Homo sapiens: one gene and its partners. The protein of the gene in region 3 purifies or fractionates together with the protein of the main gene of each other region. This does not show direct contact. Each region holds a gene or a part of one and is shown on either strand. Other genes may lie near its edges.

The links.
Region 1: the proteins of SPATA33 (region 3) and AP1S2 purify together in Homo sapiens (affinity purification with mass spectrometry; one large-scale study listed by BioGRID and IntAct). This does not show direct contact.
Region 2: the proteins of SPATA33 (region 3) and KCNE3 purify together in Homo sapiens (co-immunoprecipitation; one large-scale study listed by IntAct). This does not show direct contact.
Region 4: the proteins of SPATA33 (region 3) and PPP3R1 purify together in Homo sapiens (affinity purification with mass spectrometry; one large-scale study listed by BioGRID and IntAct). This does not show direct contact.

Annotation. Positions count from the first base shown.
Region 1 is NC_000023.11:15,828,052-15,830,877, forward strand, and holds part of AP1S2 (AP-1 complex subunit sigma-2), read right to left. Parts: exon of another isoform or gene 2,008-2,826; intron 150-2,007; coding exon 141-149; intron 1-140. UniProt on the Homo sapiens protein: Subunit of clathrin-associated adaptor protein complex 1 that plays a role in protein sorting in the late-Golgi/trans-Golgi network (TGN) and/or endosomes.
Region 2 is NC_000011.10:74,461,022-74,464,593, forward strand, and holds part of KCNE3 (potassium voltage-gated channel subfamily E member 3), read right to left. Parts: exon of another isoform or gene 3,241-3,572; intron 1,835-3,240; exon of another isoform or gene 1,661-1,834; intron 1,112-1,660; exon of another isoform or gene 1,083-1,111; 5' UTR 934-1,082; intron 1-933. UniProt on the Homo sapiens protein: Ancillary protein that functions as a regulatory subunit of the voltage-gated potassium (Kv) channel complex composed of pore-forming and potassium-conducting alpha subunits and of regulatory beta subunits.
Region 3 is NC_000016.10:89,660,776-89,664,347, forward strand, and holds part of SPATA33 (spermatogenesis-associated protein 33), read left to right. Parts: exon of another isoform or gene 1-733; intron 734-3,572. UniProt on the Homo sapiens protein: Plays an important role in sperm motility and male fertility. Required for sperm midpiece flexibility and for the localization of sperm calcineurin to the mitochondria. Promotes mitophagy as well as acts as an autophagy mediator in male germline cells.
Region 4 is NC_000002.12:68,186,511-68,190,082, forward strand, and holds part of PPP3R1 (calcineurin subunit B type 1), read right to left. Parts: intron 2,181-3,572; coding exon 2,004-2,180; intron 805-2,003; coding exon 745-804; intron 143-744; coding exon 1-142. UniProt on the Homo sapiens protein: Regulatory subunit of calcineurin, a calcium-dependent, calmodulin stimulated protein phosphatase. Confers calcium sensitivity.

The DNA of each region.
Region 1 (2,826 bases), on a different chromosome or scaffold from region 3:
GATTTTGCAAATCACAAAATAAAGGACCAAGGAGGCCAACTTTCAGGTATTACTAGCAACGAATTTTGTAATTAAAAGGCAACACTATATTTTAATGATGGAAAATAATATAAATTTTTGGCATCCAGTAATAAACTTACTTTCGCATCCTAATCATGGTACAGCACAAAGCAAGGAGAAGAGAAATTATATTAAACCATAAATCTTTAGAATATTAATTGCATGTAAAGCACTTCATGGTGTAATCTTAAGTAAATTACTTAAACTCTATGGTCTGTTTCCTTATTTGGAAAACATGGATAATAGTACTTACCTTCATATGTTGAGATTAAGTGAATTAAGGCTCTGCCTAATTTATAGAAAGTGCTTCAAAAATGTTAGGTGATATAGTTACACAATTGAAATCGAAATGATTTAGCATTTATTATTAAACGCAAGTACTATACACCAATTCTACTTATAAAGCTCATATGATGACCTTTTAGTATGTCTGCATAGTAATAAAAATGGGTAAAAATCAGCTTTAGCGAAAAAAGGTATTTTTTTAAAAAGAGTCTAACCTATGAAGTATTCTTGCCCCCTCAAATTGAACCTCAATCTAGTCAGGTTACAGATCTAAATAGAAATGAGGGATATAAGAACAGCTAAACATTGCCATATGAGTATGATGGCCAAATCCATAAGGTAGGACATCCTGCAGCATAAATGACCTCGTTTTAAAAAAAAAAAATGGCAAGGCGGGAAAAAGCAGACGATTTGTTAAAGATTAAAAGAGACTTAAAACGCACATCAATCAGATACAATGTGAGAGTCTTGGTTGGAATCTGATTCTAACAAACCAAATATAAAAAGGCATTTTTCAGACAATTAGGAAAAATTGAGCCAGGCATAAGATAGTAATTATTAATTCCTGTTAATTTTGTGGGGCATGGTACTTTATCTGTTAGGGACACATACTGAAGTATTAAAGACAAACTGACAAGATGTCTAGGGCTTGCTCTAAGATACTGAGGCAAAAATGCGGGGAGTGGTTGGGGAAACAGTATTAAGTTGATGGTTCTTGAAGCTCAGTGATGTGTACACGAGGGTTCTTTATACTATTTCCTATACTCGTGAGTCTTGAAGTTTTCATGATAAAGTTTTTTAAGAAAGTCCAGTGGAAATGATGTAACACCCAAGAGTGATGTAAGCCAATCCCTTTCATTTATATTTAGCCTTAAGCATTAAATACACTGAGAATGACATCTAAATCTCATAAATATTCAAGAAAAATTTAAAATAATTATTTCCATGTAATGTTAAGTAGTTTAAAGGTTCATGTAGCCTTGAATGTATCAATTAAATAATGCCTCCATTGAATTCTACAGTTTACATTCTCAGCTTCTCCATGTAAAAATGCCCCACAGCTACTCCGTGGAGCTGGTCAGACTTTTCCCCATGTGCTCACTGCCTGCAATCTTATATAGCATTTCCTGTAGAGAATCATACTGCTTATCAAATATGCATTATTGAAAATATGTGTCCTTTCTAAAAGGCCTAGTTTCAAAGAATTATTTACACATTTTATTCTTGTGAGACTTGCACAGGTAGAGTTTTAAAATAAATTGTGGTGATAATATAAAATGGAACTTACACATGTTCACACTGAAATTGTAGCTCAAAACTACCCAGAAAAACTATTATCTATCTAAAGTAGTAAAATTTATAGAAACAGAAAGTCGAATGGTGGTTGCCAGGGGCTGGGGGACAGGGAGAAATGGGGAATTGTTGATTAATGGGTATAGAGTTTCAGTTCTGCCAGATGAAAAAGTCCTGCAGATCTGCTGCACAACAATGTGAATAAACTTAACTAACACAACTGAACTGTACACTTAAAACTGCGTAAGATGGTGAATTCTGTGTTATGTGTTTTTAACCACAATTTAAAAAATTTGCCTAGAAAAATGAAAATATAAAACGTTATTTTATGAGGGATGGAAAAGAAAAAGTCATTCACATGAGACGAAGTACATGCAATACTTTTATTTTAGACATGCAAGGAAAGCTATTTCAGAATCTACTAATTTAAAGCAAGCAGCTGTATACAGACAGCAAAAGAAGCAACATTTTGTTACAGCTTAGCACAAGGCATCCAACACAAACAGGCATGAGACAATGCATATTTATGTAGCATTAAAACCAGATGAATAATATATTGTGGGGCAGGAGGAGGAAAGGAGGGGAAAAAAAAATAGAAATGAAAGACCAATGTTTCTCAATGCTTCCAATATATAATGCTAAATTTCCCACCTGATTGATAGCACATCCAGGTGCTTCAAATGTCGTGCATTACAGTGAGAATGTTAAGAATGGAAAATCTTATCTGTGTACCTGCCTAATACTAAGTTTGGTCAAAACACATTTTCATAGATCTTCTTTCAGTGATAAATCGATTTGAACATCTTGTGAAGTTATTGTTTAATAACTTACTTAACTTAGGCTTTATGCTCTCTAGATATAAACAATGAATTCTTTTCCTTTTATAAAAAAATATGCTGCATGTTTTATTAAAAGAATATGCAATAGTTACCAATATTAAAGGTTTTAAAATTCAGAAATATAATGCCACAGTTAACAAAGTATCAAGTATTTAAATGAGGACTTAATATATTAGAATGCCATCACTAGTAAAATATAAGTATTTAGGTATTAAAACTGAATGAATATTAGAATTTTTGAACTATATAAACTCAGCATTAATGCTTTGAAAGAGTTATTATTCAGCAACAGATATTGCAGAACAGACTTCAGACATAGCTCTCTAATAAGTTCTTAAAGGGATTGTTT
Region 2 (3,572 bases), on a different chromosome or scaffold from region 3:
GGGCCTCAGGCAATTTCATAGGTAGACAACAAACAAACAGTGTAAGTGTCTTGATGAGCCTACTCTGAAGGAAATAAGTTCCTTTCCCTGGGTGGGCTTTGGTTTCCTCATCTACCAAAAGACATTATCATGGAGTTGTTGTATGGTAGGTATAGAGTTTCAATTTTACAAGATGAGGAGATTCTGGGGATCTGCTGCACAACAAGGTGAATCTAGTTAACACTACTGAGTGTACACTCAAGAATGACTAAGATGGTATATTTTTATGTTTTGTGTGTGTGTGTGTGTGTGTGTGTGTGTGTGTTTTAAGCACAATTTTAAAAAATAGGCCAGCTGTGGTGCCTCACTCCTTTAATCCCGGTACTTTGGGAGGCTGAGGCCAGTGGGTCACCTGAGGTCAGGAGTTCGAGACCAGCCTGGCCAACGTGGAGAAACCCCGTCTCTACTAAAAATACAAAAATTAGCCGGGTACACGCCTGTATTCCCAGCTGCTCAGGAGGCTGAGGCAGGAGAACCGCTTGAACTCAGGAGGTGGAAGTTGCAGTGAGCCGAGATCACACCACTGCACTCCAGCCTGGGCAGGAAAGCAAGACCTCTGTCTCAAAAAACAAACAAACAAACAAACAAAAAACCCCACAAAGAAAGATGATCATCCTTTCCCTCCTCCTTCAAGGCTTGCTATGAGCATATACTTGTATTATGTAGAAGAGGATTAAAAACTTTTTTTTTATTTTCAAGAAGCAAATATGTACACATAGGTTTAAAAAAAAAAAAAAAGAATGGACGCAGCACATACAGTGAAGGTGAAAGCTCCTAGTCGTCCCAAGCTCCATCCCAGGGCAGGGCAGTTACCATTCAGTTTTCTTAGGTATCATTGGAAAGGGGTTTTAACTGACAGGGAGAGGGAGGGAAATCTCAATCTGGAAGACTCACCAGACTGCTGGCAAATCCACTGGCTCTCAGTCAGTTTCAGGAGTCCCTTTGTGGACACACTAAGGCTCCTCCACCCCCGAGCCTCTTCAGGATGTCTCTGGACACATCTGGGATCTCAGTATTGACTTCGGAGCTGGGAAAGCCCAGAGCTAGAAAGCAGGAGAGAAGGCAGAAAAGGAAGGAACCAGACACAAAGCACAAACTTCAGAACCAGGGTGGATTGCCCAAGGCCAGGCCCCAAGGATTATGCAACAGTCCTGCTGTGGGCTCTGACCCCCTCCCATGGCCCCTCCCCTTCCTGCAGCAGCTGGGTCAGGCCAGCCTAGGGTTGCAGTTAAAGGAACTGTGCAGTGACCAAAGGGCCTCTGATTGCTGTCCCCTACCTCCAGACTTACAGTGTCTTCACTGGGTGACTTCATGAGAAACCTGTTTAAAATGTGGACTCCCACTCAGGGACCAGCTGATGGTGCAGCCTAAAACATTCCCTTTCCTAAGGGTTACCTTAGCAAGGTCCTTTTCGAATCCCAAGGGAATTGACATGAGTGGGAGAATGCCAACTGGCAGCTGGGTTGATATTTTACATAGGAACAAATGATGTGTTACCACCCAATCTATTCAGATAGACAGGATATGAACACGGTCACAGAATGAACACTATCTGTAGCATAGCTTTGTTGTGAAAATTAAAGAACATCATGTAGTGCTTGGCACTAGACACTGCACATACGGTGGTTGTTTTTGTAGAGCAAGGCTGGAAGGGCCTTCAGAGCCCATCTAGGCTATATGCCCTCACTTTACGGTGAAGGAAATGGAAACCAGGGGAGTTGTCCCAGCTCAGCTGCTCCTTGTGTGACTTTGGACATAAGACTTCCCTTTTCTGGGCCTCAGCTTCTGTCCGCATCTGTAAAATGAAGGGGTCTCAGTTGGTTCTAACGTCCTGTGATGATACGAATCATGAAACCATGCTGTGAGACCATGGGAAGTTGGAGAGGCTGATGGGAGAGGCATTTTGGGGGCTTTCTAGAGCTTCTCAAATCCCAAGATAGAGAAGGCTGTGGACCTCTTCCTCACAGGTTAAGATGCTTCTGAGCCCTGGGACTGACTGACATCTAATATCCCAGTCGAGCCAAACTGAGAGATTTACTCATTTTTCCTCTTCACAGCTCACCTGCCAGGATGATCTAGCCTGAGGAGGGGATAGACTCTGCAGAAGGTGGGGGAAGGGGACAGTGTGGAGGGTAGGGTGGGCTTTGAGGCAGGGTTCCATGAGGGGAATAAAGATTCATGAGACCTTTCATGCCTCAGGGTCTCTCTGAATAGACTAGGATGTTTGTGCTTCTGACAGGAGGAGGAAAGGGGCCATAGTTCCACATCTCTAGGTGCTGGGTTTGTATGGGAGGGAAGGCTGGGGTGCCAGGGCCTCCTGTCTGCGTTAGGAGAGGCAGAAAGCTGATGAAGGCACAAGTTGGTTCTCTATGGGGCTCTGGGGCTGCCTCTGGGGCTCAAGCTGGGGACTGGCAGTCAGCAACAGGGGAGTTTTGCCACTGTTTCTGAGCTCCTTGGCTTCCCTGTCCAGGAGAGTCCCTGATTACTGAGATCCTTGGATGGGGGAGATGGAGCTCCTGCCCTGGAGAGGTCTTGCCTTGAAATAGAAGATAGGCCAGTGAGGAAGGAAGGTGAGCAGATGGCCAAGCTGAGAGGGACTTTAAGGATCATCTAGAATCTAGATTCCAGGCCAACCCCTCCATTTCGTAGATGAGGAAACTGAGGCTCAGAAGGGAGAAGTGACTAGTCCAAAATGACATGGCCCATAAATGGCAGCACTCAGACAAGAACCCAGGTGTTTGGGCTACTGTTCAGGTGCTCTTTCCACTACAAATGGCAGTGTTTCCTCACACCTAAGCTTCACATCACACCAGACACAGCCTGTTAGTGTCATGGGGCATCATCTCCTCTAACTTCGTCACTATGGCCTTTTCATGCACCACAGATTCTCGCCAATCTTAGTCAATGATCCAGTGAGATGGAGGTTGGTAAGCTTGGGAGGAGGAGTTAGACTTCGTTTATGCTCTCATCTTCCATGCACCCCACTGCTCCAGACCTACTCCTGATTCCCCAGATGAGCCAGGTTCACTCTCTGTTCCTGCTATTTCCCATACATTCACAGGTTCTCACAAACTGCACTTGCCTTACACTTGTCCAACCCCTAACTTGGAAGTTGGGGAATAAAGCTGTGATCTGAGGGATGAACTGGGGATCTTAGTGGGGTTTTCATTCAGGTTGCTCTGGGGAAAAGTGAAACTCTACCCTTGGGTCTTTCTTTCCCGTCACTCCGTTTCAGCTACTCTTTCAGAATGAGCGTCTTCAGTGTCTGGAAATGAAGTACAGAGAGGTAGGTAGAAAAAGTCACATAAAGCAGGTAGGTGATCCAAAGACAGTTCCTGGGGTGCACAGTTTTACCACTGTCCCCTTGGTGGTCTTACCACTCCTGTGGATTGGAGAGCTGGTGGAGTGGGAGAGGAGTTGAAGGAGTAGCCCTTAGCATCCAGTTGGAAGGACAAAGGAATAGAATCTGAGCTGGAAGAGATCTTCATGATCATGTTGTTGGTGCAACCCCCTCATTCAACCAGTGGGAAAAT
Region 3 (3,572 bases):
AAATGGTTTTCGACCTGAATCTGAACATGGGAAGCACTGCAGTTTAGTAGTCCTGGTCCCTAAGCCCTTCCAGCCCAGGAGCCAGACCTGTGAGCAAACAAGCCTTTAGTGATTCCAGGCTCTGGCTGGAACCTTGAGTCTTCTCAGCTTGGGGCATGCACCTCAGGGGGAGCCAGCATCAGTGTCCAGCCCCAAGAGCTTCCCTGTACGTCTCAGTGAGTCTTCACATGCCTCCAACTGCCTGGACAACCACACGTGATACCTGTCCTGCCAAACGTGTCCTGAACCCATAAAATCCAGAGAAAAGAAAATCGTTTTAAACTGCTGAGGTTTGGGGTAAGTTACTATGAAGCAGTAGTGAGAAGAACAGAAGGGCCATGATGGGGAGAAAGTTTGGCCATAAGTTAATCACTGTGGCAGCTGTTAGGATATTGATGTGGCTTGGCTGTGTCCTCACCCAAATCTCATTTTGAATTCCCACATGTGGGAGGAACTGGGTGGGAGGTGATTGAATTATGGGGGCAGGTCTTTCCTGTGCTGTTTTCGTGATAGTGAATGAGTGTCACGAGATCCGATGGTTTTAAAAACGGGAGTTTCCTGCATAAGCTCTCTCTCTGCCTGCTGCCATCCATGTAAGATGTGACTCGCTCCTCCCTACCTTCCGCCGTGATTGTGAGGCGTCCCCAGCCATGTGGAACTGTAAGTCCATTAAACCTTCTTCCTGTGTAAATTATTCAGTCTCTGGTATGTCTTTATTAGCAGCATGAAAACGGACTAATACAGATAGATGTATTATACTGTTACCCCTACTACTTCTGTATATGCTTAAATTTTTGCATTACAAAATTCACAAACATACAAACATTATAGAGAACTAACATCACAGATTTACAGTCACCTTATTCCACAATGTTGGAAATTCTACCACAAATAAAGAACTTGAAAAAAAAGGAGGGGATGTTAGAAGGAAATCTGAGCGACCTAGACCTGGGCTCAGTCACGCCTGAGACAGTCAGATGGGGTATCTGAGGATGAGTCAGTGTTAATTTTCTCAGACCTGGGCTCCGTCACTCCTGAGACAGTCAGATTGGGTATTTGAGGATGAGTCCGTGTTAATTTTCTTAGATGTGGGAATGCTATTATAGTTACGCTAAAACACAATCCCTATCTAATAAATACACTGCAACATTTATGGGTAAAATCATATGTCTGAAATTCCTTAAAGATACTCAGAATGCCAGGCATGGTGGCTCATGCTGTCATCCCAGCACTTTGGGAGGCCGAGACGGGTGGATCACTTGAGGTCAGGAGTTCGAGACCAGCATGGCCAACATGGTGAAACCCTGTCTCTACAAAAAATACAAAAAAATTAGCTGGGTGTGGTGGTGCACACCTGTAATTCCAACTACTTTGGAGGCTGAAGCAAGAGAATAGCTGGAACCCAGGAAGCAGAGGTTGCAGTGAGCCACGATCATCCCACTGCACTCCAGCCTGGGCAATGGAGTGAGACTCCATCTCAAAAAAAAAAAAGATACTCAGGAAAAAAACGAAGAAAGAACAAGATAACAAAATACTGATTGAAGCTGAGTGCTCTATAGGTGCAGGTGCTCATTCACTATTCTATTTTCTTGTGTGTTTGAACACTTTTTTTTTTTTTTGAAATGGAGTTTCCTTCTTGTTGCCCAGGCTGGAGTGCAATGGCATGATCTCGGGTCTCAACTCACTGTAGCCTCCGCCTCCCAAGTTCAAGTGATTCTCCTGCCTCAGCCTCCCAAGTAGCTGGGATTACAGGCGCCCGCCATGACGCCCAGCTAATTTTTTTTGTATTTTTAGTAGAGATGAGGTTTCGCCACGTTGGCTAGGCTGGCCTCAAACTCCTGGCTTCAGCTGATCCACCCGCCTCGGCCTCCCAAAGTGCTGAGATCACAGGCGTGAGCCACCGCACCTGGCCTCCCAGAGCGCTGGGATCACAGGCGTGAGCCACCACGCCCAGCCTGTTTGAACACTTTTGTGACGTTTTGTTGTTTGTTTGTTTTGAGATGGAGTCTTGCTCTGTTGCCCAGGCTGGAGTGCAGTGGCACAATCTTGGCTCATTGTGACTTCCGCCTCCCGGGTTCAAGCAATTCTTCTGCCTCAGCCTCCCGAGTAGCTGAGACTACAGGTGTGCGCCACCATGCCTGGGTAATTTTTGTATTTTTAGTAGAGACGGGGTTTCACCATGTTGGTCAGGCTGGTCTCAAACTCCTGACTTTGTGAACCACCCGCCTCAGCCTCCCAAAGTGCCAGTGTTACAGGTGTGAGCCACCACGCCCGGCCTGTAACATTTTCATGAAGGTAGAGTATACTTAATTGCAAGAAAATTTTGAAAAAGAAGAGAAATGGAACACTTCTATTGGCTATTAAAAAATACCATGCTGAGTGAAAAAAGCCAATCCCAGAAGGTCACATGCTGTATGATTCCATTTCTTTTTTTTTTTTTTTTAGGCTGGAGTGCAAATGGCACGATCTTGGCTCACTGCAACCTTGGTCTCCCGGGTTCAAGCAATTCTACCTCGGCCTCCGGAGTAGCTGGGACTACAGGCATGCGCCACCATGCCCAGCTAATCTTTGTATTTTTAGTAGCGATGGGGTTTCTCCATGTTGGTCAGGCTGGTCTCAAACTCCCGACCTCAGGTGATCCGCTTGCCTCAAACTCCCGATCTCAGGTGATCCGCTTGCCTCGGCCTCCTGAAATGCTAGGATTACAGGCGTGAGCCACCATACCCGGCCGTGATTCCATTTCTGTAACATTCTCTGAATGACAAAATTATAGACAGGGAGGACAGATTGTTGATTGCTAGGGCCTTGGCGTTGGGGTAGGGAGTGAGGGGGTCTGTGAAGGGCAGGGCTTTGGGGTTGGGGTAGGGAGTGGGTGTGTCTGAAGGGCAGCAGGAGGAAGATGGGATTGTTGGTTTTGGTGGTGATTGATTAAATGGCGTAGCTGTACATACACTCATAGTACCGGAGTCCATTTCCTCGTGTCGATAATGGTACTATAGTTATATAAAACGTTCGCTTTGGGAGCCAAGCACAGTGGCTCACGCCTGTAATTTCAGAACTTTGGGAAGCCTAGGCAGGCAGATCACTTGAGCCCAGAAGTTCAAGACCAGCCTGGGCAACATGGTGAAACCTGATTTTTACAAAAAAGACAAGAATTAGCTGGGTGTAGTGGAGTGTGCCTGTAGCCCCAACTAATCAGGGGCCTGAGATAGGAGGATCCCTTGACCCCATGAGGTTGGGGCTGCAGTGAGCCAAGATCGTGCCACTGCCCTCCAGCCCCGGCGACAGAGTAAGACCCTATTTATGCTTCCTAGCAAGGAAAGACAGTACACATATTGAAGAATTTGACTGCGTTAAAATGTTAAACCTCTCCCCAAACTCTTATAAACAATTGTAGAACAAATGATAAGCTCAAAAAAATATTTACATCTATGAGAGGCCAAAGAATATCAGTTGACTCTGGATCAGGGGCTCGGACACGTTGCTGTGGAGGCACACATCTTCCTGGAAGGCGGTTTGGTAACAAGGTGGCA
Region 4 (3,572 bases), on a different chromosome or scaffold from region 3:
TCTGCATTTATTATGGTTTTGTCTACAATTTGCTGTAACTGTGTATCTTTCAGATTGTTCCCCACCATCATCTTCAATACCTGGAAGAGTTCCCCATTGGAAATATAGCCATCTTTATCCATGTCATAGATACGGAAAGCAACTAAAAAAAAGGAAGGAAAATCAATTCCAATTACAAAGCAATCACAAGTAAATGCTTTCAGTAAGAAAGAAAATAGTAAACTGACAAACATCAAAATTATGACTATGAGGATGTCTCCTTCCTTAAAATAGAGTTGTCCTTAGGCACAGTTTAACATAGTTGGTTAAACGTACGGGCTTTTGAGACTGCCTGAGCAGATTTGGTGGAGCTTAGAGTAGGTTAACTATCCCTGCTAAGCTTCAGTTTCTACACAGATAAAACTGGATATAGTAACAACTCCAACCTCTCCGGTTCTTTAGAACATTTCTTCCCACTTTCACTAAAAAAATCTCTTCTCTAAATTACATATGTAGTTTTACATGGCTGTTTTCAGCAGAAAGAAACTGTTTTCCTTCTATCCAACTAAAAGCAGCAATGACACATTATTCAAATATAGTAGTTGGAAATGTCCTAAAAGGATTTTCACCAGAATGTAAAATTTCAGTTATGTCTAAGGATCTGGAATAAAAGACATCTTTTTCATTATTTTAAAAAGCATTCTATAATACAGTATGAAATGATGGTAGTATAAGAGAATGAAGTCAGTGAAGAAAAATACTTACACCTCAATTTCTGCTCCTTATCTCCTTTGACACTGAACTGAGAGACGCCCTCAATGAATTCTGAATAAGAGTTAAAAATGTTCACAAATCAGAACTTCCAATTTTTTACACAAAAAACATATTTACCTTACATACCCACAAAAGGATATTTCCTTGCTGCAAAACAGAAGTACTACTAGCAACGTTTAAAAATAAAATTGCCAAATTTGAAACCTCAACAAACAAGGTCTCTCTGTATTTTTTTTATTTGAACTTGGAGTTCTCTAAGGTCAATCAATTTGAACAAACATTTGTTAAGTGCAAGATAAAAGAACACTCAAAACATATTATTTAAGTTGTTTAACTCTTCCCTCTTAGAATATGACTGTAACAAGGGGCTTTAAAAAAAAACCCACTATAAATTGTTCTGACACACACAAAAAACTTTAGCCTTCTGTTTCAAAATTGTGAATCAAATATGCTGTTAGAAGTTTCATGACAAATGATCATTTTTCTTCACTGCCTGATAAGCACTAAATCATAATCAGTTTTATATCCCTCCACTTATAATTGTCCAAACTAAAATAAAATCTATTGACAAATCCCTTGTGAAATGTTTATTTACTTGTTAAAACAAACAAAAAAAAAAACTGGCTTGGCGCGGTGGCTCATGCCTGTAATCCCAGCATTTTGGGAGGTTGAGGCACGTGGATCACTTGAGGTCAGGAGTTCGAGACCACAGCCTGGCCAACATGGTGAAATCTCGTTTTTACTAAAAATACAAAAATTAGCCAGGTGTGGTGGCACATGCCTGTAATCCCAGCTACTCAAGAGGCTGAGACAGGAGAATTGCTTGAACTCAGGAGGCGGAGGCTGCAGTGAGCCGAGATTATACCACCACATTCCAGCCTGGGCAAAAGAGCGAGACTCCATCTCAAAAAAATTAAATAAATAAATAAAAGGAATTGCAGCTTCTAATGTATATAAGAATATACAGTATTGCCCTAAAGTGAGATTAATTTTCTAAAAAGAAAGGAAATACTGAGTCCCCCCTGCTTTTTGGTAGATTATCCTAAAGAATGACTTAATCATTTATGAACCACAGAGTAAAATGTCCTAGTTCATTAAGGTGTATATGCCACAGACGCTGAGGTTTTAACATAATCTATTATTGTAAGGTCACTAGGAATATAAGCACTTTTTTTTTTTTTTTACACAGAGCTGTAAGAATACAAATAGGTTAGATAACTTGTGGTTATAAAAAATAACTACTTTCTTACCTTTAAAGTCTACTTCTCCATTCCCATCTGTGTCGAATATATCTATTACTCGCTGTACTAAAGGATTCTGTTGTAACTCAGGCAGAGACATGAACTCTTCCACACTCAAAGAACCAGAATTGTCCAAATCAAGCTTCTTAAATCTCTTTCCTAGCCTTTTAATTTCATCCGCATCAACTAAAAGCAAACAAAAAAGGAAGCAAGAATTTTTTAAAAATGTTCCCAAATCCTTTCTAATGGGCAGTAGCAAGATTTTAAAAAAAATTTTAATAGTTATAGGGGGGAAAAAAAATCTAACAGTTATCCAATAGTTTAATTTCCAATTTGATAAAAAGAGGTATATATTATGTTAACTAATTTATTCTAATAGAGTAAGTACAGCATAAATACTTGTATTTGGTTACCTTTCTGTTTGTTTGCACCTGCCATTACATACATCCGCTGTATGCTGAGTCTCAAGATATTCCAGGCCGGATAATGCTAAGCTGATCATGGAGGTCACAAAAGATTATTTCAGGACTGACAATGCTAAGCTGATCACGGAGGTTCTACCAGACAGGTTCAATCAACCTCTGTTCTGTAAACCGAAGTACTTTCATTTTCATTTTTCTTGTTAAATTTTAATTTACTTTATTTCTAATAGTTCATGACTCAAAAATTCAAAGGGTATTCAAAATTCAAAGTTTCCCTCCCTTCCCACCCCGAGATATCCATTTCCTTTCTCTGAAAGCAACGTTGCCAGTTTCCTAAATATTCTTCCAGAGATACTTTGCAAGTTTGAGCAAATAAGCCAGTTTTTACTTAACAACCAAATAGCTAACAAAATTCACTTATCAACACTTTAAAAGAGAAAGAATAACTAAAAAGAAATGTTTACATTAGTTTGTAAGTAATCCATAAAAATTCAGTGTCAGGTCTCTTATATAAATTCTTGAAACAACAGGTTTAAGCTATTTTCTTCTAAATTACATCATTTTCATTCCTTTAAAATATCTGACTAATACACATAAGTAATTTTGATCATGACTTTATAGAAATAATTACAAATATATTTTTTAAATTAAATACAACGGGCCAGGCGCAATGGCTCACGCTTGTAATCCCAGCACTTTGGGAGGCCAATGTGGGCAGATTACTAGAGGTCAGGAGTTACAGACCAGCCTGGCCAACATGGTAAAAACCCCACTTCTACTAAAAATACAAAAATAAGCCGGGCATGGTGGCACGCACCTCTAATCCCAGATACTCAGGAGGCTGAAGCAGGAGAATCGCTTGAACCCAGGAGGCGGAGGTTGCAGTAAGCTGAGATCACGCCACTGCTTTCCAGCCTGAGTGACAGAGTGAGACTCCATCTCAAAAAATTAAAAATAAAAATAAATTAAATACAACAACTTTTAAAAAGAAAATTAAGAAGGCAAATGTTATACTGCCCATGAGTATATATGTATTATGGCCCACAACACTAGAAAAGAGTACAAATACAAGCTGTTTTGACAGCTTAAATATATGGCATCCTCACTGTAAGAACTTAAAAATTAAAGCATATATTTTAAATATAAATTATATTAA